Homo sapiens: one gene and its partners. The protein of the gene in region 3 purifies or fractionates together with the protein of the main gene of each other region. This does not show direct contact. Each region holds a gene or a part of one and is shown on either strand. Other genes may lie near its edges.

Region 1 (5,106 bases), on a different chromosome or scaffold from region 3:
GGCAAAAGCGTGCAGATCACCTGAGGTCAGGAGTCCGAGACCAGCCTGGCCAACACGGTGAGACCCCGTCTCTACTAAAAATACAAAAACTAGCCGGGCGTGGTGGTGGGCACCTGTAATCCCAGCTACTCGGGAAGCTGGGATAGGATAATCACTTGAACCCAGGAGGTGGAGCTTGCGTTGCAGTGAGCCAAGACTGTGCCACTGTACTCCAGCCTGGGCGACAGAGTGAGACTGTCTCAAGAGAAAAAAAAATCTTTTCAGTGCTGCATCACAAATGGATGGGGGAAAGGAGCGGGTGCAGACCAACAATGAATGCAAGCTGACCCATTATGGTAGCACAGATGAAAGATCTTGGCTACCCAGATTGGATGTGAATGCTACAGACACAATAGAAATATCATAAAAATCATTAGTGCCAAGGATTTGGCAGCTGAATGAGGGGGGCTGAAGGACAGGGACGAATCAAGACTTGGCAATTTTTGGCTTGAACACCCAAAAGGATGATGTGCCATGTATTGTTTTCATTAAATGTTTAAGGGAAAACATGATGTGAAATTACTATGTGGAATAGTGTTGTTTTTAATACTTAAGAAAAATTACATTGTTAACTACAAAGTAATTTCAAACTTAATGTGTATTTCTTGATCAACTATAGTCTTCCCACAATTTCTCAATGTCTGAGCTTACTTAAAAATTGCCAACATCAATTTTAGATTCTTCTTAGACAATTTTCTACTGTCCTTAGAATAACGGATTCTAAACATGGCCTACCAAGACTGTTCCCACCCTGTCCTTTGTCTAATCCTGCTTTTAGTTCTTGGAATATGCTAGGCTCTTCATCTGCCTTTGGATCCTTTGCCAACAGCAATTCCTCCCCCGTTAATGCTGGCTTGCTTTCTGGATTCAACTATTACGTCCAATCATGATTAGATCCCCATTCACTTGTAAGGGAATTATACTTTCTCCTCAGAGAATGTATGATAGTTTATAATGTTATACTTACATAAATATTTGTCTTAACAGTCCATAAGCACCATCAAGGCAGGGAGCATAACTGCTTTGCTCTATTGATAAAACAGAACCGCCAGGTGCAGTGGCTCATGCCTGTAATCCCAGCACTTTGGGAGGCTGAGGCGGGCGGATCACGGTCAGGGGTTTGAGACCAGTCTGGCCAACATAGTGAAACCCCGCCTCTACTAAAAACACAAAAATTAACCGGACATGGTGGCGCGTGCCTGTAGTCCCAGCTACTCCGGAGGCTGAGGCAGGAGAATCGCTTGAACCCGGGAGGCAGAGGTTGTGGTGAAGTGAGATTGCACCACTGAACTCCAGCCTAGGCAACAGAGCCAGACTCCAACTCAAAAAAAAAAACAACAACAACAACAAAAAAAAAAACCCCAAAACTTAGTGCAGAACCTGCCACATAGTAGGCACTGCAATTTCTACTGAATAAAGAATGAATACAGTAGCAAGGCAAAGGCAAACTGAAGGCTGAATTAAGATTTAACTCAAGCTCCACTGTTCAGTGGCAATCCTACATCAGCATAGATGTAATTTTATCATCCCTAAAACAAGATAAAACATAACCACTTTATATGAAAGAACTACCAATGTAAAAGAAGTATGACAAGGGTTTTTCATGTTTATTTAGCAAGTTAAATGCTGTTTTTACTGATGATAGAAAGCAAATAAGATACTCCTCAAAATCAAAGAAAATAATTAAAACTATAAAGTATTTGTTCACCTGAAGTTCAGTATTTATGACATAATTATGCCCTTAGCTACTTTCAAGATTTTAACTTTACTAAAATAAACTTTAAAAAAAAATACTGCATAGGAAAATGTCTGATTCTTGTTTTAAAGTGTTACTGTTTTATTTTTTTTCTTTTGTTGAATACACATTTGTTTTACTGGCAGTCCAGATAAACAAGTATATAAAGGAAATAGTAAATTTTTATTTTGGCAGAAGATAAACTGTGCAGATTAAAATGCCTCAATTTAACCTGAAGAAATGGTTTTGAATCATATAAATTTTTAAGAAGAAAAATAAAGACTGTCCAAAGGGATTCTCCTAGCTTATAACACATTTCCAGAATAACTCTCAAAAAAAAAAAATTCAAAAATACTCATTGACTACCTTAAAAATATGTCAATACCGTATGGCTTTATGAAATAACTTCTAAAATTTATATAATTTTTCTTATTTAAAAAGGACCCCAAGTTTTAAATAAGCTGCTAGCAGTATCATTTTCTTCACTTAAAAGTGCATATCTTTGAGGGTGGGACATACATTTTGAACAAATAATGATTTTTACAAATTAACACCAAAAAAAAAATCATTTAAAATATTGTAAGGAGGAAGAGAGTTTTCACCAAATGTCATCTTTAAATAGACTGCAGTAGACGACATTCTTCCTTTTTCCTTTTTATAACATCATAATTCTCAATGAAATGCTTTGGCAGTTTTAAGACATATCACAGTCTCTACCAAGACATACTGACATTAATGATGTCCGTGGCGATGGCAATTGCCTTGATGGCTCAGTTTGAAGAGACACAATGTTACTGGGCTGGTTCTCCAAATCAGAAACAAAGGTGCTCTCTTCTCTTACATCGAGAGTTTGTTCAACTGAAGCTGCCAGAGGTGGAATATTATCTACAGTTTTGTTGGCATTATTCAAGTTGTTACTAAGTGTGGCAATATCACATTCCTTGTCCAGCACACCAAATTCAGCTTCTATTGTAACTACATCTTTAGTTTCAAATGGTTCCAAGGAAGGAGCCAAAAACTCATTTTGTAGAGGGTCTTGAGGACCACTATTGTCACATTCTGTATCCTCCTTTACTTCAGAATCCTTATCACTGTCACTGTCAATGGTAATTACAACTGGGGAACGTGAAGCATTATCTCCATGGTGTTTCTTATGCTTCTTCTTATGTTTCTTCTTTTTCTTTTTATGGTGTTTAGTTGTATCAGTAGCTTTTCCTTCATAAACTATCTCTACACTTAGGCTCCGGGTCTTCCTTTTTCTCCTTTTGTGTTTTGTCTCTCTGTCTGATGATCGGCTGTCTGAAAAGGTATCACTCTCATTTTTGTAGTTTCCATCCAATTTTGATGAAGATTTTTGGTAATGACTGTCCTTTGCTTTAGAAGCAAATTCACGAGATGGCTGAGCCACTTCGTTAGTACCCTCCAAATGCCGTGTTTTGTATTTTCGTTTCCCTCCAGGCTTTTCATTTCTCACCCGGTCAGTCCCGGTAGATGCAGTCCTTGATCTGTTACTAGACAGGCTCCTTGATCTGTGCCTTTCATAGTAGTAATACTTCCTCTCACTGTGATTATTTTTTTTCCTAGCATTTGTTCTTTCAGAAAAGGACTGAACTCTAAATTCTGGACTTGAAGACTGTCTAGAATAATGAGCTCTGGACAGAGTCCTCCTCCTGTAAGATGATTCGTACCCATCCCTGTCCTTGTTTCTACTGTAATAAGTATACTCCCATTTGTATCTGCTTCCATAATTATTTCTTAAATAATAACGATCTCTATTTCTGCTCCGTGATCTTCTTTTACCATGATCACTGCTACGAGACCTTGATCTGCTTGTGCTTTCACTACTTAGAGACAGAGTTTGGCTTCTTCTGGACCAACTGCTATCTCTAGTTCTTGATCTCTTTTTGTCTCTTCTCCCTCTAGGTCTGCTACTTTCCCTGCTTCTGGATCGTTTACTTTTCATTCTTTTCTTCCCATGATGCTTTCTATGATTCTTCTGATCATGCCCACTTCTACTCTGAGAACGTGAATCTGAACTTCTTGATCTTCCCCTCTTTCTGTGTCTATGGTTATATGGAGAATATACTCTGTCTCCTCTTACAGATGAGTTCAGGTTTCTGGGAGATGACAATGATGTAGATCGTTTCTCTTCCTTCTTTGATTTGATTCTTGTACTAGAATCACAATGACCTTTATTTATTTGTTCATCCTTTCCAAGGACAGAGTGTGGAGATGAGCATCTACTAACATCGCTATCACCAGAACTGTAAGATTGCTCCTGTTCTTGTGTCTTCACTGTCTCCATTTTCTCATAAGAACCTAAGTCCTCAGAATCAGAGGACAGTTCAACAAGTTCTGGGGTCCTCTCAGCTAGTGGTTTAACAAACCCAACAATGACACAATTATCTGAAGAATCATCACTGTCATTATTTAGGTCGTCATTGGTTTGTACTCCTTGTATCTGAGACGTGGCTCCTCCTGTGACAAGTTCTTCATCTGAACTGTCAGAAGTATTTAAAAGAGAAGACATAGTAACGTGTACCTGCTCTGAGCTTGAGTAAGATGGTCCTGGAGTTTCATCATCCCATGGTGCCTGACTAACAGTGGCTACATTAATATCCAGCTCTTGGGTCTCAGCCTCATCTGGAGATATTGTTATGACTGAAGAATCAGAATGGCTGCCTTCTTCGTATGAAGGAGCAGGGCAATCATAATTGGCATGCTGGTCAAAGGCTGCCATGTTAAAAGGAGATCGGGCAAAACTGATAAATTCATGTATAAAATGCTCAGTTCGATTAAGTAAAAATGGTCTTAAATCAGACACAAATGCCTGACTCTCCAAGTCATAGCGAGTAACATTACTCATGATAATATGCTGGACAATATTCACTAAAGATCCATGAGCTCCAAAAAGAACTGTAAGTTCACGTTTTAACCAGGGGACTAATCTGTGAAGGCAAGCTGGATTTCTACGGAAAAATTCAGCTGAAATATCCCTGTAGCGGCCACCATCTTCAATATTTCTAACTCGAGCACCAGCACGATAAAGAGTTCGTCTAAAATTAATAATATCTTGTTCTTGAATTTTCCGCAAAGATCTTTCATCTGCCGTAGTTGGCCTCCTTACTGCAATCTGTCTCATAAACTGAGGAATTTCAACATCTCTAGGTCTTGTTGAAATGCCTAACCCTTCAAACAGTACTCCACTATCCGGTGGAGTTGTTGTTCTTCTGTTCACAGGACCACTAGGTGAATACACAGAAGCATTTCGTTCCCTTGTCAGAGTTGTACGGTAGCGAAATCGTCGATCAGGGGTGACAAAAGAACCATTA
Region 2 (9,563 bases), on a different chromosome or scaffold from region 3:
CCTATGATAAAGTTTAATTTATAAGTTACGCACAGTAAGAGATTAACAACAATAGCCAATCATAAAATAGAGCAATTGTAATAAAAATGTGAATGTGATCTCTCAAAAGAGCTCACTTTACTGCACTCAGCCACTCAGCCATCTGATGACGTGGGATGAAATATGCTCGCATGATGACACGGAGGCCCTGCCACTTAGCATTGGGCCCCCCTTGACCTCCTGCCAATGCGTCAGAAGGAAGGTCACCTGCCCCCAGTGATCCTGGGTCACTGAGCCACAGTGAGCACAGCACCGCCGTACCCCCAACGGTTGTTGGCCAAGAGGGCTGCTAAGTGACTAGTGGGCAGTTAGCGTCGTGGACAGCTTGCATCTGCTGGACAAAGGGATGATTCGTGTCCCAGGTGGGGCAGAGGAGGTCGGCACAAGATTTCATCACGCTGCTCAGCACAGAACATCATTTAAAACTTAGGAATTATTTTTGGAATTTTCGATTTAGTATTTTCAGACGCAGGTAACTGAAACTGTGGAAAGCCAGAAAGCAGAGCTTCTGTGTGTGTCTCAGTACTCAGCGTGGTGGAGTGGCAGCGTGGGTAGAGCCCCTGCCGGCACCCAAGTCCAGCGGCCTCAAGGGGCAGCACGTGCAAGGCTGGAGCTGCGGCTGACCCTGTGCGCTCTCCGTGGAGCACACATTGATGAGAAAGACTGGCAGACATGCCAGGGAATGCAGATCCGGGTCCTGGCAGGAACAAAGTGAGCCTGTGGCTTCAAGGAGAACAACGGACAGTGTTAGCAGTATTAAAATTGGAGCTTTCAGTTGAAAATTGGACTTTTGTGTGCTCACCAGCTTCTCAGTGTGTCAGGACTTTCTCAGGTGACCATTGCAGGATGTCACAGAATCATGCCTGGGTAAAAGACCCATTCAAAGTTCAAGATAGACCAATGGATTTCAGAAGAACCAAGTTGGAAAAGTGTGGTGATAGGGTTCAATTGCAGCTCGCTGTAAGGAGCCTTCCCTTGCTGAGTGCGGTGTCAGGGAGAAGCTCTGAGCACACTGAAAAGGCTTTTAGATGCCCCTCCCTCTCTAGCTGCATCTCTTCCTGGGGCTGTAATGTCCTCTCCTGCTTGAGCCACAGCGGCCCTTCATGGTCGATCGCATGCAGATGGGAGGCCAGGGGTTTTCCAGGGTCAGCATTCAAGAGATTCGCAAAAAGGCAAAGAATGCTATTCCTCTCACCAAATATTTTAAAAACAGTTTCATAAATATTTGTTACTATATATTGGATATCTTGTTATTGTTAAATAATGAGATATCTTTAAGTGTCTCTTAATTTCTAATATCGTACGTATCAATAGAAATGACACATATAAACCAAGTAAACACAGGGAATTGATATTTACTGTATTCAAAATCAGAAGAGACATTTAAAGATACTTCATGTGTGGGCTGTGCTGGAGCATGAGCTGAGCCTCAGTTCCTGCCACCTCTGTGTTTAGTTTCCGGATTTTCCATGTTTCCTATCTGTTTCCTGTCTGTTTCCCTGATCCAGTTTGGGTTGGTTGCTACTGAGCATGCAGGTTCCCTTTCTGTAGTTACATTGTTTAGTGAAAAAAAGCAAGGTTCAGCACAGAGCATAATATATATGCTCAGGTAAAAGGGGGCAATGATTGATGGATGGAGCCCCAGTATATTGATAACTGCCTCTGGGAATGGCCCTGGAGGCATGGGATAGGTGGTCAACTTCACAGTGTACCTTTTAGAGTGGGTGGGTATTTTTTATTTACAAGTATTTCATTTGATTATGAAATATTTCATATATATAAAATAATACAGTGTTTACACAAGCGTAAAGATTAATAAGAGAATAAAACAGTTGGCTGGGCGTGGTGGTTCATGCCTGTAATCCCAGCACTTTGGGAGGCCGAGGCGGGCGGATCACCTGAGGTCGCAAGCTCAAGACTAGCCTGACCAACATGGAGAAACCTCGTTTCTACTAAAAATACAAAATTAGCCAGGCGTGGTGGTGCATGCCTGTAATTCCAGCTACTCGGGAGGCTGAGGCAGGAGAATCACTTGAACCTGGGAGGCGGAGGTTGCAGTGAGCTGAGATTGTGCCATTGCACTCCAGCCTGGGCAACAAGAACAAAACTCCATCTCAAAAAAACAAAAACAAAACAAAAGAAAAACCAGTTGCTGCTGTGCCGACATTCCAGTTAAGAAAAAGACCATCATCCTGTCTTGAAGCCAGAAATAGTACTTAGACATTTCAGCAGTGGAGGGGCCGCCTCCGCCCCGCTCCAGCGGCCTCTGTCCCTCCTTGTCCTCTTCTGGCCTGAGGCCATGTCTGTGTACACAGTATCCGCAGAACTATCTTTATACTGTTAGAATCACAATCCACATAAATTTTGGGTTTGAAGTCCCATTTGTAAACCAGAAGATCTTTATTGTTGCTTCTATTTTCTGGATAATTTCTTTCTTTCTTTTTTTTTTTTTTTTTTTTAACAAATTGCTTTTTAAATTATGAAAGTAAGGCTGGGGACGGTAGCTGACACCTGTAATCCCAGCTCTTTGGGAGGCCGAGGTGGGCGGATCACCTGACTTCAGGAGTTTGAGACCAGCCTGGCTAACATGGCGAAACCCTGTCACTACTAAAAATACAAAAATTAGCCGGGCTTGGTGGTGCACACCTGTAATCCCAGCTACTCGGGAGGCTGAGGCAGGAGAGTTGCTTGAACTGTGAGGCAGAGGTTGCAATGAGCCTAGGTCGCTCCACTGCACTCCAGCCTGGGCAACAGAGCGAGACTCCATCTCAAAAAAAAAAAAATTAAAAAAAGGAAAGAAAGTAATATGGGCTGGCAGAAGGCAAGAAAATAAAATCTAAAGCCCCTTCCCACATTCCCGACAGTTGGGTGTGTTCCTACACAGATAAAAGTTCACATTTTAAAAAGATAGATGGGACAATGGTGTTCTTTCTGCCTGACGTCTGCTGGAAGTGTGTCCCAGCTAGACGTGCAGACCAACTGTGCTGCTTTCCAGAGCCATCTTCCCCTTTACTCTGGCCAGGGGCAGGACAGCGCTCAGCACCCCCGGGCAGGTGGCTCCCGAGAGCTGAACACTGTCACCCACTAGTGTCTGGTCTCTAGTGGCAGCCCCACGCTCGCCTTCTCAGCTTGCTCTTTGGCGCTCACTGGTTTGTTCTCTTCTGCCTTGTTCCTCTTTTCTCCCCATGCCAATATCAGTGAGAAAGGATCTTTTTTGATAGTAGGTTCGTAGGTGATGTCCTAAAAATTTTCATAAATACAGAAAAGAACGATAACATTTAGCCACCACCCAGATACATATTTTAGATGAAAAAGAAGTACAGAGGCCGAGTGTGGTGGTTCACGCCTGTAATCCCAGCACTTTGGGAGGCCGAGGCTGGCAGATCACAAGGTCAGGAGTTCGAGACCAGCCTGACCAAGTTGGTGAAGTCCCGTCTCTACTAAAAATACAAAAATTAGCCTGGCATGGTGGTACCCGCCTGTAATCCCAGCTACTCAGGAGGCTGAGGCAGGAGAATCACTGACACCCAGGAGGTGGAGGTTGCAGTGAGCCGAGATTGCATCATTGCACTCCAGCCTGGGACTGTCTCACTCAGTCAGAGTGAGACTCCATCTGAAAAAAAAAGGAAAAGGAGTACAGAAAAGCTGTGGTTTCTATTGTCAGCACTTTTCTGTACTTGGACATTTTTTACAATGAGCTTTTGTTACTTGTTTAGTTACACACGTGATTTTGAATACTGCATGAGTATTTTCAGAGGCAAACCATGAAGAGCTCTGTAGTGTGTTGAGTCTCAGATGGATGACTGCATAGTCAGTTTTTCTTTAAATCTCTCTGAGGCTCTGGATTTTTGAACCCCCTATAGAATAACATTTCCCAACCTCTTTTGTTTTTTGTTGTTGTTTTTGAGAGAGACTCGCTCTGTTGCCCAGGCTGGAGTGCAGTGGCACGATCTCGGCTCACTGCAAGCTCCACCTCCTGGGTTCACGCCATTCTCCTGCTTCAGCCTCCCAAGTAGCTGGGACTACAGGCACCTGCCACCACGTCCGGCTAATTTTTTGTATTTTTTAGTAGAGACGGGGTTTCACCATGTTAGCCAGGATGGTCTTGATCTCTTGACGTCGTGAGCCACCACGCCTGGCCTCCCAACTTCGTTTGACTTATGTGTGATCTCTGAAATGCTTTTAGAAATTTTAAAAATTACTTGTCATTTTTGCATTTCCAGAGAAGCAGTTTTAAGTTTTCTTTCGTGTTTAATTTGGATCGATATTGTTATTATGTTGTATTGAGTTGGTTTTAATGCAGGCTTAAGTGTTCCTGATGTTTAAGGTTAAAATTTTAAATGATTTAAAATCTAACTGCATGTTAACCCATTGAAAAAAATTTTTAAACCGCTTAGATACTATATGCCATATTTGGTTTTAAACAATGTGTACACATTATCTATTCCCAAAAAAGTACATTTTAAAAAAGTGATTCACTCAGTAATTGAGTTAGACACTTAGATGTCTTATATTCTACACTTGAAAGTCGAGGTCTCCTTTACTAACCCGGATATTCTGTTGAAGATGAAGGTTTGTGATTGTTATTTATGAGCAAAGTGTAAAAGCCCGTTTCAGTTCCAGAAATATCTTGAAATGCCCTGTGAGAGTTTTCTCTGTGAGAGAAATGCAGACGTACAGAGGTGGCCAAGGGGACCCTGAGCACACCTGCAGGCTTCTGATCATTGTTAATGCTTCTCATTGATGTCTGTTTCGGCACAAATACAATTAACATCCAGTTGTACCTAGATGAGCCTGGGCCAGGGCTGGAAGCAAAGCTCTGGGGCTTTTCTGGTTTAAGGGGAAAATTAATACTCAGACAGTTGATACGCGTGAACTCTCCACAAAGTGACTTTGTGGTCACTCTGACCGAGGTGCCTGGCAGCCTCTGGGGAACTGCCGTGCCTGGGCAGGTGCAGCTGTCTGGCTCAGCCTCTCCAGGCTCATCCCGCCCACCTCCCCGTTCAGTTCCCACTACTGTGTGGCTCGCCATCAGGCCTGGGTAAACATGGCCTCTGCCCCCTCCCACCCCCCACCCCAGCAGCTGCCCTTGTGCAATTAGGCTCTTGTGGACCCTTTCTGATCTCACTTTTGTTTCCATAGGGAACTGTACCTGGGGAATGAATTGTAGGTTTATACACCCTGGAGTGAACGACAAGGGGAACTACTCCCTAATCACCAAAGCCGACCCCTTCCCGCCTAATGGTGCCCCGCCTCTCGGACCTCACCCGCTGATGCCCGCCAACCCTTGGGTGCGTGATGCCTCTTCTTTCATTGTTAGCACATCAGCCAACTGAGCTGTGTCTGAATCTCAAGCTTAAGACAAGTCACTGTGCCTTAGCACAGGCTCAGTGCCCCCTTTCGGCTGCTTCTGTCGTCCCGAGTGGAAGCAGGCCTCGGCTTTCCGAGGACGGAGTGAGGCTTGGTGGAAGGAGAGCGGCCACACACGGCCGGCTTGTGTTGTAGTTGATGTTTTTACTGTCTGGTTTCTCTGTACACTTGAAAGTTTTACTTTCTCACCTTCTCCCTTCTCGTTTTTCAATAGGGTGGGCCGGTAGTTGATGAAATTTTGCCTCCACCCCCTCCAGAGCCCCCAACAGAGAGTGCCTGGGAACGAGGACTCCGGCATGCAAAGGAGGTAAACACAATTCAGCAGAAATCCCGACAAGAAAGATGCTATTACAGGAGTGGTTCTTGACAAAACTGGGATTTCCTCGGTCCAGAGAGAGCCCCAGAAATCTCTGAAGTTAGGCGTCTGTTTCTGTGGTGTCTTTCTTTATTTTTTATTTATTTATTTTTTTGGAGACAGAGTTTCACTCTTGTTGCCCAGGCTGGAGTGCAATGGCCCAAACTCGACTCACTGCAGCCTCCGCCTCCCAGGTTCATGTGATTCTCCTGCTCGGCCTCCCAAGTAGCTGGGATTACAGGCATGCGCCACCAGGCCCGGAAGGATGGAGAGTTATATCTAACTGTCTCAGGCAGCAGCCCAGTAGGCCAGGGAGTTCAGTCCAGGGCATACCCACTGTCTTCATGGGGCTGGATCAGCACTGGGCCACACCCCAGCTGGCACTGCCCAGGAGCACAGGGTGCAGTCTCCAGCCACTCACAGAAAGCCTGGCGAGGCTGCCCGAGCCGCACCCCCAGGATCTGCACCCCACACTCCTGAGACTCAGTGTCTGCTCTTCCTGGAGAAAACTTGGAGCTTTCTGGTCCTATCACTGCACACTTCCTCCCTCTAGGCCCACGTTGGCCCCAGTGTGTGAGCTTCAGCTCTGGGGACCACTCTGCTGGCACCCAGCCCCACTTCCTCATTTTCCTGGTCAGCCTCCCTGCTGGGAAATGACGGACAAGATGTTCCTTCTCACTCCCTCGGCATGTCACTTCCTTCCCTCTGAGACTCCAGCCACTCCACCTGCTGCTTGTCACTGAGTGACTGAACCCTGGATCTAGTTCCAAGGGTAGTTGAAGGAAGTGATGAACACCTCATGTGGGCACACGGAGGCCGGGGGCAGCTGTTTGTGCAGAGACGGGCACAGACTGCCCTCCCCAGAAGGACAACTGTGCTGTGTCCGCCCCTCACCCCTTGAGCACTTGCAGCGTGCAGCTCCTGCTCCTGCAGGGCTGCTGCGGTCGGGTGGGACGGCTCCCTTTGTGTTTCCTAACAGCGACGCCCGGTATTCTGTTCCATGTTGACTTCTTTCTTCTTACAATGGTAGGTTTTAAAAAAAGCAACTATTCGAAAAGAACAGGAGCCTGATTTTGAAGAGAAAAGGTTTACGGTGACCATTGGCGAAGACGAACGGGAATTTGACAAAGAAAATGAAGTTTTTCGAGATTGGAATTCTCGGATCCCGAGAGATGTCAGAGACACAGTGTAAGGAATGGCCCTGCCTGCCCCTCCGTTTCCTTCCTGCATGCGGCCACGCTCCGGAGAGAGCAGCCATGTGCAGGGCCCCAGGGTGCGCTCGGCTGAGACCCAGCCCCACTCACTGGAGTCTCAGTGACGTTCCTGAGAGCATTCAGGCACGGTTCTCAGAGCTCATCTCAGTTTTTTGCTTCTAGGAAGGAAGCGTTAGGGCTCTGTGCCATGGGCCTTGACTGGCAGCACTCACACCGTTGTGGTTCCTGAGCTCTGAGAGTTTTCGCTGCTGTCCTTGAGGCCTCTAGAGCCCCACAAGTCTGTGTTTCTGGCTCCTCACCCCTGCCCACATTACCCAGGAGCCAGGAAACGTGTGGAGGTTGCCACAAGCCAGGAACACAACAGCTGCGGCCTCTTCGCTGTCAGGGCTGTTCTGCCTTCACTGCTTCTCCTCCAGGGCATTGATGGCTGGTTTTTGTTTTTTGGTTTTTTTTCCCGAGGCAGAGTCTTGCTCTGTCGCCCAAGCTGGAGTGCAGTTGCGCAATCTTGGCTCACTGCAACCTCCGCCTCCCTGGGTTGAAGTGATTCTCCTGCTTCAGCCTCCTGAGTAGCTGGAACTACAGGTGTCTGCTACCACACCCAACTCAGTTTTGTGTTTTTAGTAGAGATGGATTTCACCATGTTGGCCAGGATGGTCTCGAACTCCTGACCTCAAGTGATCCACCCACGCCTGCCTCCCAGAGTGCTGGGACTACAGGCGTGAACCACTGCACCCAGCCCCTTTATGCCTGGTCTTTAAAAATCCTGTCTTAACAGAAGAAGTGCCTGGGTCGAAGGGTGGAAGTCAGATCTTGGGGGATTGCATGGCATATAAAGTGCTGTTTTCCTCTGCCTGTGGATGGCACGGTGAGGTTCAGGGCAGGGAACTGGATTATAATTCGGGCAGATCTGAATTGGCACTCCATCATGCTGAGGCTTTAGCAGCCCTGTACATTTCTGGTTGCTATTAGGGAATCATAATCACTATGATTTCTATCTGGAGTGACAATAAACGGTGCTCAAAAAAGGAAGGCGTGCAGGGCTTGCACTCCAGGATTTGGTCCTGTCGACTTGGCCCTGCAAGGCCCTTCTCAAGGCCTTCTTGCCGCGAGCAGGCTACCCTGGGCTTTCCGCCTGCGGAAGTTGGGGGAGGAAGCCCCAGTGGCCCACACCTGCCCCAGCAGGTGAGAGCTTAGAGGTTAAAGGGATAGGTATTTAAAGACTTGGTTAACATGTACATTTTCTAATTAAGTTTTGTGTGGAATGTCAGATCACAGAAAGGAGCATTTGAGTCAGAACTCTGCAGGATCACCAGGGGTGTCTCCTGAAGCCCTGGAGGCCTTTGTGTTTTTTTGTTAGATGTGGATATCGTCTTTCCTTCCCCAGAGCTCGTGTGCACAGAGGTCTCTATAAATATGTGTGGGGAAGGATGGATTTTAGAACCTGGGCGTGATCCTTGACACTCTATTTCCAGTTTCCCTGGCTGGAGCAGGGACCGGAAAACTGCCTGCTTGGAAGTGGTTCGGCAGGTCTCTGAGGTTTTTTGGAGTGCCCTCTGTGTGTGTTTTACCTATCAGTGTTGGTTACAGAAACAGGTGTCTCCCATCCTGGCACCAGGTGACAGAAGCTGGCTCCTGGCTCCCTAGCTTCTCTCCCAGGAGCCGGTATCTACACTGCAGGACCCCCAAATGTTAAAGTCTCGGCAGTCAGGGCTGAAAGGTTTTCACTGGTGTCTGAAAGCCAGGTATTTCTGTATGTTTGTATTTTGTTTGTTTTTATAGAGTAGCCTCTGTGTATGTTACAGTTAACCTGAGGCCTTTTGTGCCATGCCTCCCCCGAGACCTGGTGAGTCAGGACCTCTGGGAACAGGGTCAGGGTGCATGTGTCACAGTGGCGAGGTGCCCTGGCTGTTTCTGATAGACACAGTGGAAAGAACTGTCAGGGTTCTGCCAGGAGGGTGGAGACCCCCCTATGATTGTCACAAAGAGCATCTAAGGGAAGGGTGGGTCCACCAGGTAGGTTGCTACAGAGGAAAACAGTGAGTAGAGGGAGCCAGTACAGCTGGGCTGCTGAGACCCGGAGGGAAGGAAGGAGCTGCACTGCAAGTGCAGATGTCCTGGTGCGTGCTGTTGGCAGGAGTGGGTCCTCTTGTCACCCAGCCTTCTCGGTCCTACCTGTGCCCGCTGCAGGCAGGGCCTCACCTGGAACAGCTGGCAAAGCAGGTCGCAGCTTGTAGGGTGTGCAGGAGGGTGGCTGGCAGCCCAGTTGGCGGTCAGGCTCCAGGGCCTTAATGGCACAGAAGAGGCCAAGCCAGCAGCACTTATGTGTTGCAATCCTGCTGCATGACAGGCTTCGCATCCAGTGCTCCTGACCTGTTTTGGGTCACAGCAGGCCGAGGTCAGGGCCATGTCCCTGCCTCACAGGTGAGGAGAGTGCAACCTGGATTGATAGCTGTGACCTCCTGGTGTGGTGCCTTAACCTCAGCCACATCTGCCCCCAGCAGCATGTGAGAGGTCAGATTCTTAGCTCGACCCCAGGAAGACTGAGTCTGAAACTCCAGGGAGAGCCCAGGCCAGTGGTTTGTTTT
Region 3 (9,887 bases):
TAAGATTTCTATGATGATCAGATGCTGAATTTTGTGAAATGATTTTTCTCCATCTGTTGAGATGATGTGGTTTTCATCTTTCATTCTGTTCAAGTGGTATATCACATTGATTTGCTTGAATATGTTGAACCATCCTTGCATGCCAGAAGTAAATGGCACTTGCATATCTACAATCCTTTTATATATCCTCTTGAATACAGTTTTCTAGTACAAGTGGTCTTCAAGAAGCTCATGGAAAAATACATATTATGGAAAAATTGTGCATGAATTTCACAGTTTTTGCACCAAAATAAACTGATACAAATCTGTTATAACATGTCTGAACAGGCTCTAGTTTGAGGCACTGAGAAGGATAAGACATGAGTTTGAAAAGAGACTGTATCAAAGGAATACAAATTCTGCTAAAATTGAAACAAGAAGAAACATAAAATTTATGATGAGAACAGTTGCAGTGTCTCAGGTCTGTAATTCCAGTAATTTCAGAGGCCAAGACAGGTGGGTCACGTGAGCCCAGGCATTCAGGACCAGCCTGGGCAACATGGTGAAAACCCCTTCTATACAAAAAATACAGAAATTCACTGGGCAGGGTGGCACCTGACTGCAGGGCCAGCTACTGTGGAGTCTGTAGCATGAGGATGGCATGAGCCTGGGAGGTCGAGGCTGCAGTGAGCTGTGATCTTGCCACTGCACTCCAGCATGTCTCAAAAAAAGAATACTTATGGTAAAGTTTGGGTAGATGAATTATGATATCATTGATGCTTTATGAAAAGGTTATGGGGACGATGCCCAAAAGAAATCAACAGTTTGTAAATGGATAACTAATTTTGAGTTGGGAGAAGACAATGTTGAAGGTTACACGTGGAGCAGCAGGCAGACCATCCACATCAGTTTCAGAGAAAAACAATAATCTTGTTTGTGCCGTGATGAAGAGGACTGACAGCTAACAGCAGAAACAATAGTCAGGAGGTTGAGAACAGGCTGGTTAACATGGTGAAATGCCATCTCTATTAAAAATACAAAAATTAGCTAGGTATGGTCGCAGACACCTGTAATCCCAGCTCCTTGGGAGGCTGAGGTGGGAGAATCGCTTGAACCCAGGAGGTGGAAGTTGCAGTGAACCGATAGTGCCATTGCACTCCAGCCTGGGCAACAAGAGTGAAACTTTCTCTCAAAAAAAAAAAAAAAAAAAAAAAAAAAAAGATGTCAAGCCCCTTCTCTTCCTTTCTCCACCATCATGGTGTGTACTTGACTCTGCTTCTCACCAGATCTTCTCATAAGACTATCAGGATTAAGCAATTCCTGGCCAAGAAAAAAAGCAAAATTGTTCCATTCCCCAGTGGATTCAGATGAAAACTGGTAATAAAATCAGGTACAACTTTAAAAGGAGACATTGGAGAAGAACCAATCCGTGTCTATAAGGAATTGTACATGAGATGGCACACATTTTTATGCTGTCTGAGCATTACAATCACGTTACCATATCAAGCAGAAAATGTCACCATTATCTGGAGAGTTGGACATGTTTTATTGGGAATATATTTTTTCTCTCTGAATCTGTTATGAACATGTTGGTTGGCTGGGTTCAGTAATAAATATGTGAGGCTTTTCATTTCAAAAAAAAGTCAAATGATGTAATTCCATAGAGTACCTTAATTCCCGTATTGCTTTTTGGTTTTTTTTGAGATGGAGACTCCACTGGGTTCAGTGGATCACACTTGTGGTCCTCACACATTCGGAGGCTGAGGTGGGAGGATTGCTTGAGATCAGGAGTCTTCTGGGAATCTTCTCGCCTCCGCTAACCCAGTTCAGGATAGACCCTTGGACTTTACTGTTTTGGAAAATCTATATAAACCAATATCAGTGTGTCAAAGCATTATGTCTGTCAGAAGGTTGTGAAAGAAGCTTAAAAATTACTAAGCCAAAGAGAAAAGTCAGGCTGGGAACTGTGTCAGACAAACCTGCCTCCCATTTTATTCCTAAAAGAGACAGCTACAAGGATTTTTTACAAAGCTACATAGAGGCTGGGTATGGTGGCTCAGGCCTCTAATCCCAGCACTTTGGGAGGCTGCGGTGGGTGGATCGCCTGAGGTCGGGAGTTCGAGACCAGCCTGACTAACATGGAGGTACCCCGTCTCTAGTAAAAATAGAAAATTAGTCAGGCATGGTGGCATATGCCTGTAATACCTGCTACTCGGGAGGCTGAGGCAGGAGAGTCACGTGAACCCAGGAGACAGAGGTTGTAGTGAGCCGAGACCACACCATTTCACTCCAGCCTAAGCAATGAGAATGAAACTCCATCTCAAAGATGAATAAATGAATACATAGATACATAAATATTTAAAATATAAAGATGAGGTTTCACCATGTGCCTGGGCTGGTCTCCAACTTTTGGCCACTAGCTATCTTTCTGCTTCGGTCTCCCATCATGCTGGAATTACATGCACGAGCCACCATCCCTGGCCACATTATGCTTTTTTAAACTTGCTAATATTTTAGATATGCTAATTTCTTCCTAAACATAATTATGTTTTAGCTAATTACTAGTATTTGATAAATGAAACCTTCGATAACTAGGGATGTGAGTGAAAAATATAGTTCATAGTACATGTTAACTTACAGATATTGCCATAAAATTATTGCATGCAGAAATGCGGTGATGTAAAAGTTTATAATTTTTTTTTTCTTTTTTTGAGATGCAGTCTCACTCTGTTGCCCAGGCTGGAGTGCAATGGTGAGATGTCAGCTCACTGCAACCTCTGCTGCCTGGGCTCAAGCAATTCTCCTGCCTCAACCTCTTGAGTAGCTGAGATTACAGGCGCATGCCACCATGCCCAGCTAATTTTTGTATTTTTAGTACAGATGGGGTTTCGCTGTGTTGGCCAGGCTGATCTCAAACTCCTGACCTCAGGGTGATCCATTCGCCTAGGCCTGCCAAAGTGCTGGGATTACAGGTGTGAGCCATCACACCCAGCCAATTTTGTAATTTAGTTATATTTTCTTCAGGGCCCACGTAAAACAGAATAACCTGACTGCAATGTATCCTTAGTAATATCTCATAATTATTCTCTATATGAAAATAAATCCCAATGTTTGAAGACTGCCTATTTTACAGCCTTTGTTGTTCACACCTGATAGAACACTTAGGAGAGAACAACAAAGAAAACACCCAAAATAGATTACAATTGGATGGGTGTGGTAGCTCGCCTTTAATCCCAACACTTTGGGAAGCTAAGGTGGGAGGATTGTTTGAGTACAGGAGTTCAAGGCCAGCCTAAGCATCATAGTGGACCCCCGACTCTACAAAATATTAAAAAATTAGCCAGGCCTGGTGGTGAGGGCCTGTGGCCCCAGCTAGTTGGGAGGTGAGACGGGAGGATTGCTTGAGCCCCAGAGGTTGAGGTTGCAGTGGGCAGTGTTCCCACCACTGCATTCCATCCTGGGTGTCAGAACTAGGTCCTGTTTCTAGGGAAAAAAAAATTACAACTTGAAGATAAAAAGTACATTTTCTACTTATTTTCAGAAGGCACGTAAAGTGAATTTGATATTACAATACACTTAGGAATTATTTTTTAAAAAAAGAATTTGAGAATGAGGACCAAGGTCTAATTTTTTTCTCTTGCCCAAATTCCTATCTAAAGGGTCTGGGGAGTCATGCCCTACAAACCATAAATACTCATCAGATGGGTTTTATTTAGTCCTATATATCCTGTCTTACTTTCCAGTCTGACTCTGGAATAACGTGACAAAGAAGAAAGTCAAAATATTTTACCCCAAAACATGTTTCTGTGCCATATTTTGAAATGGTCCTGCAAAGCTGTTCTTTGTGAGGGGTACATGTGCATTTGTAAAGAATCTCTGTTAACATAGCTAGATCTTTTTCTTCTAGGCCCTACCAATCCTGAAGAGATTAAGTAAGAATCTCGCACTGTTTAAAGGTCTGAATAGAAAACACTTATCATCTATTATCTCTAAGGGCAGCCAATAGAAGACTTGAAAACAACATTGGTCTCCACAATCTTTTACCTTAACGTGAACATTTCCTCTCCGTTGATCCCAGGTATTTAGACAAACTCAACCAATTGTCAATCAGAAAATGTTTCAATTTACCTGTAGCCCAGAAGTCCCCGCTTTGAGTTGCCCCTCCTTTCTGAACCAAAGCAGCGTATTTCTTAAATGTATTTGATTGATGTCTAATGCCTCCCTAAAATGTCTAAGAACAAGCTGTTCCCCATCACCTTGGACACATGTTCTCAGGACCTCCTGAGGGTCATTCATATTTAGCTTAGAATAAATCTCTTAAGATATTTTACAGTTTGATTCTTTTCCACGACAAAAATAACTCATTTTAAGTGCAGCATGAAATAATAAACGTAAGAAACAACTGGGCAACTTATATGCACTGTTACAATGTCAGTGCTTTTTTTAAATCACTTTTTTGTTTATTGAGACGGAGGAGGGAGCTCTGGGATAGAGGGTCTTACTTTGTCGCCCAGGCTGGCCTGGAACTCCAGGCTCAGCGATCCTCTCGCCCCTGCTTCCTGAGTAGCGGGGACCCCAGACTCCTGCCACCCCGCCCGCATCCCTGCTGTGTTTAAGCACACTCCTCTGCTCCGCACCCCAGACGGTGGCCCTAGGGAAGTCTCAGGAGCTGAGCACAGTGTGGACTCTCCCACTCCAGTGAATGGAGAATTGAAAGGGAGAGGATTTCTATTCTGTTCTGTGGACCGTCAGCATGAAATTGTACCTTTCGCTCAGGCAAGGCTTTGCATTTCGCATTCTAGTTTGCATTCCTGCCGTAGACAACTTCCAGGCTTTGGAATTAAATTGCTAAAATAAATTTCAATAGCAAGGAACTTTCCCGGATCCAATTACCGCCACACGGCGACTTCTCAGGGAGGTACTATTTCCCTGACTGCTGAGCTGCTCCAGCCTCACTGGCGGGTTTCACCTCTAAAACCTTGAAAACAGAGGCGCGGAGAGCGAGATGGAGAAAAGCTCAGGCCCCGCCCCTTTCCCGCCCCCGCGGACTCCTCCCAGCCCAAGACTCTTCTCTTCCGCGCCGGGCCCCTTGTCCTTTGCACCCCGCCCCGGCCTCGCCCAGGCCCCGCCCACCTCTCGGGGATCTGGCCCAGGTCCCGCTTCTGTCCTGCGCCGATTGGCACAGACCCGGAAGCGGATGGCGTGGACTGAAAGTTGCACGGCGGCGTGTGCGTTTCCTAGTTGTCTGGTGCTGCTATATAGGGGACGTGGGGTCCCCACAGACCTGCAGGTTCCGGCCCCTCTTTTCTCAACCCAGAGCAAATTGAAACGTCCGGGTGAGAGTCCGTGAGTCGCTTCCTTTTGAGTTTAAAGTTGCCCTGAGGCTGGTCCCGTCCCCGGTCTTTCTGCAGTGGGGCCGTGCAGACACCTCCTGTCGCGAAACTTTCCTTAGCAAAACCCTTTCTGACGCGTCCTCCCGCCTCGCGCTGTTTCAAGTCCTCACCCGGAGCTGGATTCTTGCCCTGGGCAAGAGCGCTTCCCAGCCTCGCTCTAGTCGGCCCCTGGAGCGCAGCGTTGCAGCCCCGCAGCCCCAGGGTGGCCGGTGCTTTGTGGCCACTCCTGGGCTCTTTCCCTTTCCATCTGAGACGTGGTGGAAGTGGGAGGGCTACAGGGAGAGTACCCTTTGATCCTTTGTTACTACGGGTGGGGAGATGGGGTTATTCCTTTTGGTCTAGTTTTGCAAAGTTCACATTAATTGGCCTTAGATTCCCAGAGCCAGGACCCAGATTTTCACTTTTCTTCTTTGTTGTTGGAGATGGGTCTCTGTGCCTACAGACTAGTATAGCCTGTGCCTGGACTAGTATAGTATAGTATAGTCTCTGTGCCTGGACTAGTATAGTCCAGCGGGGGCCGTCCAGTCTCAATGAAATTCTGGATGAGCCTAGGCAGTCTGTAATTTAGAAAATTTACGTAATGAGTTCTTTTCAGTGTGGTTTAAGCCTCACCAAGTGACTGTCCTTGTTGTGCTGTTGTATACAACTTCTGTCCTAGACAATTGAGCTTTCTTACGGGGTTGCTGAAGTTTTTTCTTTCCTTAGCTACATAGTATTGTCTAATAACTGAGGTTTTTAGGACCTAGAAGTTGCTAGTTTGGGCCTTCTGAGCTGGAATTGTGTGAGGAACTGGATCAGTGGGCACCAACTCTCGGGCTTCCTGAGGCCATCGGTCTCCAACAGTAGTTCCTCCGCGTACATAACAAGAAGCAACATTGAGGGAATGAGCTACATTTTCCGTTAACTGGAGAAACAAGTTCCTTGTCTTTTTTGGAAGCTCTGGTGCTGGCAGATTTAGCTCATTATAAAAGGCTTGAAACACTGGTTTGGGAAAGGGCCTGGGGACCTCCCCTCGGACTAAAATGGCAACTTGGGGGGTTACCCTTGTCCTATTGACCGTCAGGATTACACCTTCTCTTTTTCTCTAACGGGGGTCTAGGGAATTAGTGATTATTAGTTCTAGTGGGTTACAGTGACTGCTAGCACAGGAGGGGTTGGCTTCTTTTTTTTGAAAGTGAACCGGGTCTTTTTTGTCATTTTTCTAAGTAGCCTAAATAACACATGGGCAACAGGCAAATTTTCACAGACCTCTGCCTCATGACAAACATTTATTTTCTACTGTGCAGCTCCTTTCTTAGTTAAGAGAGCCACATCTTAATCTGAGCTTGTTACTATTAATGGCTGCACAAGCATCAAATTTAAAGTTTCTTGTTTGGGGATTCTTTTTTCTTCTGTTCTAGTTATTATTTTACTTGTGTCACCTAGGAAAGGACCAGTTCTTAATCTTATTTGAAAAACGGTGGTTGCAGGAGGCTTAGATGGGTTATAACCCATAGTAGGTTTGTCATTTCCTGGGCTACGTACCTTGTATTGAGTGGAATTATACAAATAAGATCCTTTTAACGTGCCTGTACATTCATAATAACTATAGAACAGAAAGATTGTTTTAATTTGCTGTCCTATCTCAGTGACCTGATGAATACACTGGGAACAGTCCTTAGTTTGAGGAAGGTCAGTTGAAGCCTTTACTGTACAAGTCTAAAATTTAAGAAGAATGAGTCCCACGATGAGCTTCCTCATGCTTCCACTGTGCGTAGGACCAGTCAGCTTCCGGGTGTGACTGGAGCAGGGCTTGTCGTCTTCTTCAGGGTCACTTTGCAGGGGTTATCTGGGCTTGGCCTTGCCTCCCAGGTTTCAGGCGCTGCAGGTTTTATATGGCTGTGGTGGATCCAGGCCGGGATTCCTTCTACCTTCACAGCGGTGGGAGTGGTCAGGATGACGGTCTGGGGTACTTTCCAGTGGGGGCACACAGGGGCTACGTTCCAGTCCTTGATCCACACTCAATCACCCGGGGAGAAAGAGTGAACTGGGGAGAATAAGCTAATGGGGCATCTCTCATTTACCTGGGCTGAAATCATTTGTGTAATTTTTCCTAAGGCCTTAAGCTATTTTTGATAATCCGATTCATTCACTCCACCTTTCCAGAACTCTGAGGTCAGAAGGCAGCATGCAGTTTCCACGTGATCTTTAATACCTTTGCTGTCGTCTGTACTAAGTCAGCCACAAACTCCAGCCCGTTATCCGAGCTGATTCGTAAGGGCCGTCCAAATCTAGGAATAAGATCTCGAAGAAGCACATGAGCTTTCTCAGTTCGTGTGGGATAAGCCTCCACCTACCTAGAGTAGGTACACACGAGAACTAGTAAATACTTGTTACTTCTACACTTTGGCATTTCTGTGAAGTCCACCTGGAGATCTTCAAAGGGGGCTGCTTCATAAGCTTGTATGCCGGGCAGAATGGCTGAACCCTGCCTCGCATTGTGCTGTCGGCAGGTAACACACCGCTGTGCCACGGTTTTGGCGAGGGCTGACAATTGTGAGCTGTAGAAGTACCAGCCTAACAACTGTTCAAGTGACTCCTGACCTAGATGGGTGGTTTCATGCACCTCCAGTACAACTGTGGCTCCTAGCAGCTGTGGCACAGGTACTGTCCTATTTGGTGACCGGATCCTTCCTTCTTCCATCACCTGTCTTCCCTCTGCCTGGAGAAAGTCTTTTTCTTCTTTAGAATAAGTAGGTACAAGGTCAGGTGCTTGAGGGAGCAAGGGGGCTGTGACTGATGCCCAGTAGGGTGTGGATGTTGCTTTTCGAGCTTCTGAGTCAGCTCTGGAGTTCCCTAAGGCAACCGAGGTGGAAGCTCGCTGGTGTCCTCTGCAGTGCATGACTGCCACATTGTGGGGTTTCTATGCTGCTTCTAATAATTGCAAGATTTCTTGCTGATATTTTATGTCTTTTTCTCCAGAGTTCAACAGGCCCTTTTCTTTATATAATGCTTTATGCACTTGAAGGGTTAAAAAGGCATACCGAGAGTCAGTGTAAATATTTTCAGTCTTACCTTCACTGAGTTCTAAGGCCTGAATTAAAGCAATGAGCTCGGCTTTCTGGGCTGAAGTGCCCTGGGACAACGATCTGGCATCAATGGCAGTGTCCAGGGTTACTACCGCATATCCTGCACATCTCTCTCCTTGTGGGCTGTTGAAGCTGCTCCTGTCCACTTATAGCTCCCAGTCTACTGATGCCCAAGGCTGGTCTCAAAGGTCAAGCCTGCTAAAGTAAACTGAGTCCAACACCTCTACACAGTTATGCTCAACAGGGCTGTCTGATACCAAGAGTAAGGTGGCGGGGTTCAGGGTGTTACAAACTTCAATGGTTATGTGGGGATTTTCACAGAGCAAGCTTTGGTACTTGTTTAGTCTAGCATTCATTAGCCAATGATGTCTTTTGGTATTCATTAAAGTCACCACAGCATGGGGGGCCTTTATGTTCAGGTTTTGCCTAAGAGTTAGTTTATCTGCTTCTTCTGCCAGCAGGGCAGTTGCTGCCAAGGCCCTCAAACATGAGGGCTAACCTTTAGAATCCCCATTTAGTTTCTTAGAGAGGCAGGCCACTGGCCTCGGCCAGGGCCCCACAGTTTGGATCAAAACCCTAACTGCCGTATTTTCTCTCTCAGAAACATACAGCGTAAAAGGCTTTGTCAGGTCAGGTAACCCCAGGGCTGGGGCTGACATAAGATTTTCTTTTAACTCATGAAAGGCTTGCTGTTGTTGGGATCTCCGTTCAAAAGGTTCCTGGTCCTGCCCCTTTGTGACTCCGTACAGAGGCTTGGCCAGTACTACAAAGTTTGGGATCCACGGTCTGCAGAACCTCACAGCACCTAAGAATTCTTTCACCTGCTTTCTGGTCTTAGGCTTCAGTAGGTTGCAAAAAGCCTGCTTTCCTTCTGATCCCAGGCTGCGCTCCCCCTGTTGGATAGTAAATCCTAGGTAATGTACCTGCTGTCAGCAGATCTGGGCTTTCTTCTTGGACAACTTATACCTATAGTCCTCCAAGGGCCAGAGTAGGGCATCCTTTCCCTTGGCACACTCAACTGCCATGGGGTGTCCTAACAGAAGGTCATCAACGTACTGGAGCAATGCGCAGCCTAGGTCTCTGGTGGGAAACTTCTGGAGGTCCCGAGCCAGTGCTTCCCTGAAGATGGTGGGGGAGTTCTTGAACCCTTGCAGAAGCCGGGTCCAAGAGTACTGAGCAGTGACACCTGATCCCAGATCTTCCTACTGAAAGGCAAACAGCTTCTGGCTCTGAGGGGCTAGTCTAATGCTAAAGAAAGTGTCTTTCAGGTCTAAGCCAGAGAACCAGCTGTCCTCAGCTGGCAGCAACCTTAACGTGTACGGGTTAGGTACTGTTGGATGTAAAGTCACTGTAGCTTGATTGACTAAGTGCAAGTCCTGTACCGGCCTGTAGTCATTGGTCCCTGGCGTGGGAACAGGCAGGAGGGGAGTGTTCCAGGGAGACTGAC
Region 4 (5,897 bases), on a different chromosome or scaffold from region 3:
ATTTCACATAATAATCATGTGCTTTCTGGATCCATGAATTCCCGTATTTAAATAGCTTCCACTACTTCTGGTTCAAGTTGGTGTTTGAAAAAAAAAATTGAAATTAAAAATTTTTTAAAAGCTTCTACTGCAGTCAAAACAGAATGTGCAGGGATGGCTTGTAGTTCTAGGAATGGTAGACCCCTCCCCAATATCTTTGAGAGAAAGACTCTTGAAGATTCTTGGGTTCCTGGAGTATCTGATGCTCCAGAAAAGAACCACAATGAAGGCCACAGGATAGCAATGAAAATAGTGTGACCTCTTTCTTCTGTTGTGTGTTTCTTCCTCAGCAGCTCTTTCACCCCTCTGATAGTCTTTCACCTTTTCTCTTCTGATTTCCTCTTGATTTCAGGTACCTGTTGCTGTGTGTTTGTAGAGGGAGTGGTGTTTCCCAAATTGCAAGTGCCATATCCCCCACCTCTCCCTAACTTACCCAGCGTGTCTCTTAATTAAGACATTGAGTGGTCTGCATCTTATACTAATTTCATCTTGGAGGGTGTGCTGGGTGAACAGACATCTGTGTGTTTGCTTGTGTGCTATGTCCCACTCTGCATGGCTGAGGGGACTGTCACTCTCAGAGGGCAGGGACCATGTTTTATATTGTATAATCATCAAAGCACCTAGCACAGTCTTCTGCTTAACATAGGGGCTCAGTAAATATCTGTGGAATTGAATTGTTACAAAAATAGAGCCACAGCCACAGTTGCAGAACTCTTGGCAGGAATACTATCCCAGGGACAGAACCCAAGATGATCCATTTTCTTCTAGCAGTGGTGGTATGTCGGTTGGTATACCCCAGCAGCCAGGAGTGAGGCTGCTCTTTGAAGAAGCCATAAAGGGAGAGGCCCGAGCAGAACTCCAGGCTGTGCCTGGAAGAGTCCCAGGTTTTGCTTGGGAATGGTCCCAGGACTCATGGCAGCAGAGCGAGAGTAACCTCCCAAAAAAGGTTATAAGTTGCAGGACCCCACTATATTGACGTTTAGGACCCAGATAAGAAGATTTCCTTTTTTTTAGTTTTTTTTCTTTCTTTCTTTCTTTTTTTTTTTTTAATGGAATCTTGCTCTGTCACCCAGGCTGGAGTGCAGTGGCATGATCTTGGCTCACTGTAACCTCAGCCTCCGGAGTTCAAGGGATTCTCCTGCCTCAGCCTCCCAAATAGCTGGGATTACAGGCACCCGCCACCAAACCCAGCTGATTTTTGTATTTTTAGTAGAGATGGGGTTTCACCATGTTGGCCAGGCTAGTCTCGAACTCCTGAACTCAAGTGATCTGCCCGCCTGGGCCTCCCAAAGTGCTGGGATTACAGGTGTAAGCCACCACGCCCGGCCAGATAAGAGGATTTTCTAGAGTCCCCTGTCTTACCTCCCAAGTTTTCTCCTTAACAAAATTAGAAAAAAGAGATACAAACTAGCACCCGAAGTAGCTTAAAATCCTGAATAAATGTACATTTAATTGCTCTTGCCAATTGCTTTTGATGATTTATATCAGCATGATGTCCCATTAATAAACCACAGTAACAATGTAACATAGCTAACATGTTATAGTGCATCTTGTGTCAAGCTCCCTGATAACTGCATTCCATGTATCATCTCATTTAAGGTGACAGCAGTTGGTTGTGAGGTGTGGATACTGTTACTCTCCTCACACTGCAGAGTCTTAAGAGACTGAGTTTTAGAAATGTGAAATAATTTGCCTAAGGTGACAAAGCCAGTGAGTGGCTGCTGCAGGACCGGAAGCCATGGTTTTCCCTCCTCCTGTATGGTAATGGTAATAATTATCACAGCTGCCTCTCCCCTTTTAGGCTAGGCCTCATACACTTGTCTTAATCACATTTCCCCATTTGTTTGTGGGATTTTTGTGCGCTTCACTCCTACTCTTACCCCATCCACTTCCTTTTTCAGTTTACCATGGGATCCTTTGTAGAAGGCCAACTGACTGACCATATCTGCCCACTCTCCACCCTAGGGAGGGCCTGACCATAACTACACCAAGGAGAAGATCAAGATCGTAGAGGGAATCTGCCTCCTGTCTGGGGATGATGCTGAGTGGGATGACCTCAAGCAACTGCGAAGCTCACGGGGGGGCCTCCTCCGGGATCATGTATGCATGAAGACAGACACGGTGTCCATCCAGGCCAGCTCTGGCTCCCTGGATGACACAGAGACGGAGCAGCTGTTACAGGAAGAGCAGTCTGAGTGTAGCAGCGTCCATACTGCAGCCACTCCAGAAAGACGAGGCTCTCTGCCAGACACGGGCTGGAAACATGAACGCAAGCTCTCCTCAGAGAGCCAGGTCTAAATGCCCACATTCTCTTCCCTGCCTGCCTGTTCCTTCTCCTTTATGGACGTCTAGTCCTTGTGCTCGCTTACACCGCAGGCCCCGCTTCTGTGTGCTTGTCCTCCTCCTCCTCCCACCCCATAACTGTTCCTAAGCCTTCACCGGAGCTGTTTACCACGTGAGTCCATAACTACCTGTGCACAAGAAATGATGGCACATCACGAGAATTTAGACCTGGATTTTACCATGAACCTCACATCTTGTACTCCATCCTGGGCCCCCTGAAACTGCTTATTCGTGATTCCTCACCAGCGTAGAGCTCCACCTCCCCTTTCCCCAGTACCCTCAGTGCCTGCTTCTCAGTGCTGATGCAGCTGATGACCCAGGACTGCGCTCTGCCCCATCACAGCCAGCATGACTGCTTCTCTGAGAGAACTTGCCCATCAGGGGCTGGGACATGGGGGTGTGGGTAAAGACAGGGATGAAGGATAGAGGCTGAGAGAAGAAGGAAGAATCAGCCCAGCAGGTATGGGCATCTGGGAAACCTCCAGCCTCAAGTGTGTTAGTAACATGAAAAAGCTTTGGGGGGTAGTTGGATCTGGGTGTCTGGTCCATTGCTGGCAGTGGACATTATTCTTGCCCTAAGAGACACTGCCTTTTCAGCAGCAGATACTGGTGAGATGGGGGTGGCTCAGGCTGTTCTTCCTCCTCCTAGAATGTCTGGAGCTGTTTCTACATTCAGATAACTGGGTCCCCTATCACAAGGCTACTGGCTAATAGGAATTCCCTCCTGGTGCCACCACTGGCCAGTACCTTTCCTAAGTCTTTGCTCAAATTAACCAGGTTGTGAGCCAGTGGCTTGAGTGAATGTTAGGCCTTGGGGGCTGAGTCTCTGAAAAGTCTAAGAAGCTCTGCCTAGACCAAATATGGTATACCTCCTGACCCCTCTCTCCCTCATGTCCTGGGATTCTGGGGAAGAGACCTAGAAACAAGCTTTCAAAGAAAAACCAGAAGTTGTCATAAATGGTCAGAAAGAACGATCAGGTTGGAGACTTGGGAAACCCAGGGCCTAAAGAGAAGTATCCATGAGGGTCAAACTTCCTGTTGAACTTCCTATGTTCTTTCTCAAGTGCTCAGGGATCTAAGTTAGTGGACAGCAAGCCTGTGGCTACGGGGTGGTGATGTTCCTCTTCCAGCTGTCCCCTCAGCTAAGGGGCTTAGTTTCCATGTGGGATGCCATCACTTGGTTCATGCTCATTCACACAAAGGGCACGTGTCTCAGCCTGGTATCAGGGAAATTGAGACTTATTTTTGCCCTAAAACGTCTCCCTAGCTGTTCTTCGTGGGGTTTTTTTGTTTGTTTTTTTGCCTAATTTGCTTTTTCTGACCAAGCCTTGTGGCACCAGCAATCTCCAAAGTCCTGTGGTGGGAGGGCTGAATAAATAAAAATACAAAGAGGTGGGTAAGGAGTAGGAAGGTAGAGAGCACCACTGATGAGGCCCTCCTAGCCCATGGCAGACCCAGACCTCTTCTCCCCCAGGAATTAGAAGTGGCAGGAGAGAACAACAGGGGCTGGGAATGGAGGGGAGAATTTCTAGGGGAAGTTTCCTGAGTTGAAACTTCTCCTGTGGTTACTGGTATTGAGAAATCAGCTACCAAAGTGAAAAAGGACAAGATCAATTCTTTTCTAGTCAGTTCTAAGACTGCTAGAGAGAGATACCAGGCCCTTAGCCTTGCTCTCAGTAGCGTCAGCCCCAGTTCTGAGCCTCCCCACATTACACTTAACAAGCAGTAAAGGAGTGAGCACTTTGGGTCCTTAGACTCACGTCTGGGGAGGAAGAGCAAGTAGAAAAGTGGCATTTTCTTGATTGGAAAGGGGGAAGGATCTTATTGCACTTGGGCTGTTCAGAATGTAGAAAGGACATATTTGAGGAAGTATCTATTTGAGCACTGATTTACTCTGTAAAAAGCAAAATCTCTCTGTCCTAAACTAATGGAAGCGATTCTCCCATGCTCATGTGTAATGGTTTTAACGTTACTCACTGGAGAGATTGGACTTTCTGGAGTTATTTAACCACTATGTTCAGTATTTTAGGACTTTATGATAATTTAATATAAATTTAGCTTTTCTTAATCACCTTGCCTGGCTTGGAGTCATGACTAATCCTGCACCTGCTCTGTCTGGCAGACCCATGCTGTGGAAAACCTGCTTACAGACATCACTTTTAAGTCCTTTGTGGATGTGGGCACAGTGAAGAGCAATAAAGAGTGTGAGGTTCCTGCTGGAGTTTTCAGCTCATCTGGAGAAGACAGGTCGAGGCCAGAGTTCCTTGACTGATGAAACCTTTATTTCCTCTGGAAGAGGAATGGTAGATGGGTTTCCTCTTGAGTGCTGACTCTGACTGGTTGGTAGTGGCTGCCTGAGGGCCTATTCGCACCCAATGGGAAGAATGTCATATGGCTAGTGACATCTCTTCTGTGCACTGGAAGGAAATGTCATGGCATGTATACCATGTATCTTCTATTTCTGTTCTAGGTCTTTGTTACAGAACTTTACTTTGCCTTGCAGTGATGGTCACTGGCAAGACTATCTCATGTAGTAAGAAAAGTACTGGAGCTGGGGACATGGAGGGCTAATTCCAGTCCCAGATCTGCCACTAGCTCTGTTTGATCTTAGTCAACTTTCATAGTTAGTCTGAGAGTGGATCAAATTATCACTAGGATTTCATTTATTTTTAAAAGCTGTCTTTTCATAGCTCATCCACTACTTCTCAAGGCTAGAACAAGGAGCTAGGGATCCCTTCTCAGGTTCTCTGGATGTGATATCCCTCAGTGAAAACTGGGAATCATGTTAATCTCAACGCCCGATGTAGAATTTCATGTCAAGTCTCAATAGTTGATTTTCTAAACCACACACCATCTATAGGATAATATCCCCATTCATTCATTCATTCATTCATTCATTCATCTGCTATGGGCTAGGCACTGCCCATGCCTAAACAAAGACATAATCTTACAGAGCTTAGAGTCTAGCAACACCATTACCACCACCATCCCAAAAAAAGACAAAAAATGAAAGTAAGAAAGACTGAAGCTTCTTGTATTTAAGTGACCAGAGATCTGAGTATAAGCTACAGTGTATAATTTTTCTAACTGTAGTAAGGAGTAGGTGTGCCAGAACAAAAACAAGTAGAATAGCCCAAGGATAACCATCCCTCCAACCCCCACTGTTCTCTTTGGGAGGGAAAAAAAAAGCAGAAAAGGAGGACATCTTGGGATAAAACAAAGGTTGGGAATTCCTTGTCTAGTTCTCTGGTATAAAATCTGAAACTAGGGTCAGGCACAGTGGCTACACCAAAGTAATCTCACCACTTTGGGAGGCCAAGACAGAAGTAAGGAGTATTGCTTGAGGCCTGGAGTTCACGATCAGCCTGGGCAACATGACAGGACCATATCTCTACAAAAAAATTTAAAAATATTAGTCAGGTGTGGTAGCTCATGCCTGTAGTCCCAGCTGCTTGGGAGGCTGAGGCAGGAGGATTGCTTGAGCCCAGGAGTTCAAGGTTACAGTGAGCTATGAT

Evidence for each region.
Region 1: the proteins of ZNF816 (region 3) and TOPORS purify together in Homo sapiens (affinity purification with mass spectrometry; 2 studies listed by BioGRID and IntAct, with this or other methods). This does not show direct contact.
Region 2: the proteins of ZNF816 (region 3) and ZC3H18 purify together in Homo sapiens (affinity purification with mass spectrometry; 2 studies listed by BioGRID and IntAct, with this or other methods). This does not show direct contact.
Region 4: the proteins of ZNF816 (region 3) and LRP4 purify together in Homo sapiens (affinity purification with mass spectrometry; 2 studies listed by BioGRID and IntAct, with this or other methods). This does not show direct contact.

Annotation. Positions count from the first base shown.
Region 1 is NC_000009.12:32,538,919-32,544,024, forward strand, and holds the end of TOPORS (E3 ubiquitin-protein ligase Topors), read right to left. Parts: coding exon 2,469-5,106; 3' UTR 1,626-2,468; downstream 1-1,625. UniProt on the Homo sapiens protein: Functions as an E3 ubiquitin-protein ligase and as an E3 SUMO1-protein ligase. Probable tumor suppressor involved in cell growth, cell proliferation and apoptosis that regulates p53/TP53 stability through ubiquitin-dependent degradation.
Region 2 is NC_000016.10:88,592,997-88,602,559, forward strand, and holds part of ZC3H18 (zinc finger CCCH domain-containing protein 18), read left to right. Parts: intron 1-5,181; coding exon 5,182-5,330; intron 5,331-5,623; coding exon 5,624-5,716; intron 5,717-6,794; coding exon 6,795-6,952; intron 6,953-9,563.
Region 3 is NC_000019.10:52,958,155-52,968,041, reverse strand, and holds the start of ZNF816 (zinc finger protein 816), read left to right. Parts: upstream 1-5,160; 5' UTR 5,161-5,315; exon of another isoform or gene 5,316-5,325; intron 5,326-7,864; exon of another isoform or gene 7,865-8,015; intron 8,016-9,887. UniProt on the Homo sapiens protein: May be involved in transcriptional regulation.
Region 4 is NC_000011.10:46,855,423-46,861,319, reverse strand, and holds the end of LRP4 (low-density lipoprotein receptor-related protein 4 precursor), read left to right. Parts: intron 1-329; coding exon of another isoform or gene 330-374; exon of another isoform or gene 375-391; intron 392-2,004; coding exon 2,005-2,337; 3' UTR 2,338-4,603; downstream 4,604-5,897. UniProt on the Homo sapiens protein: Mediates SOST-dependent inhibition of bone formation. Functions as a specific facilitator of SOST-mediated inhibition of Wnt signaling.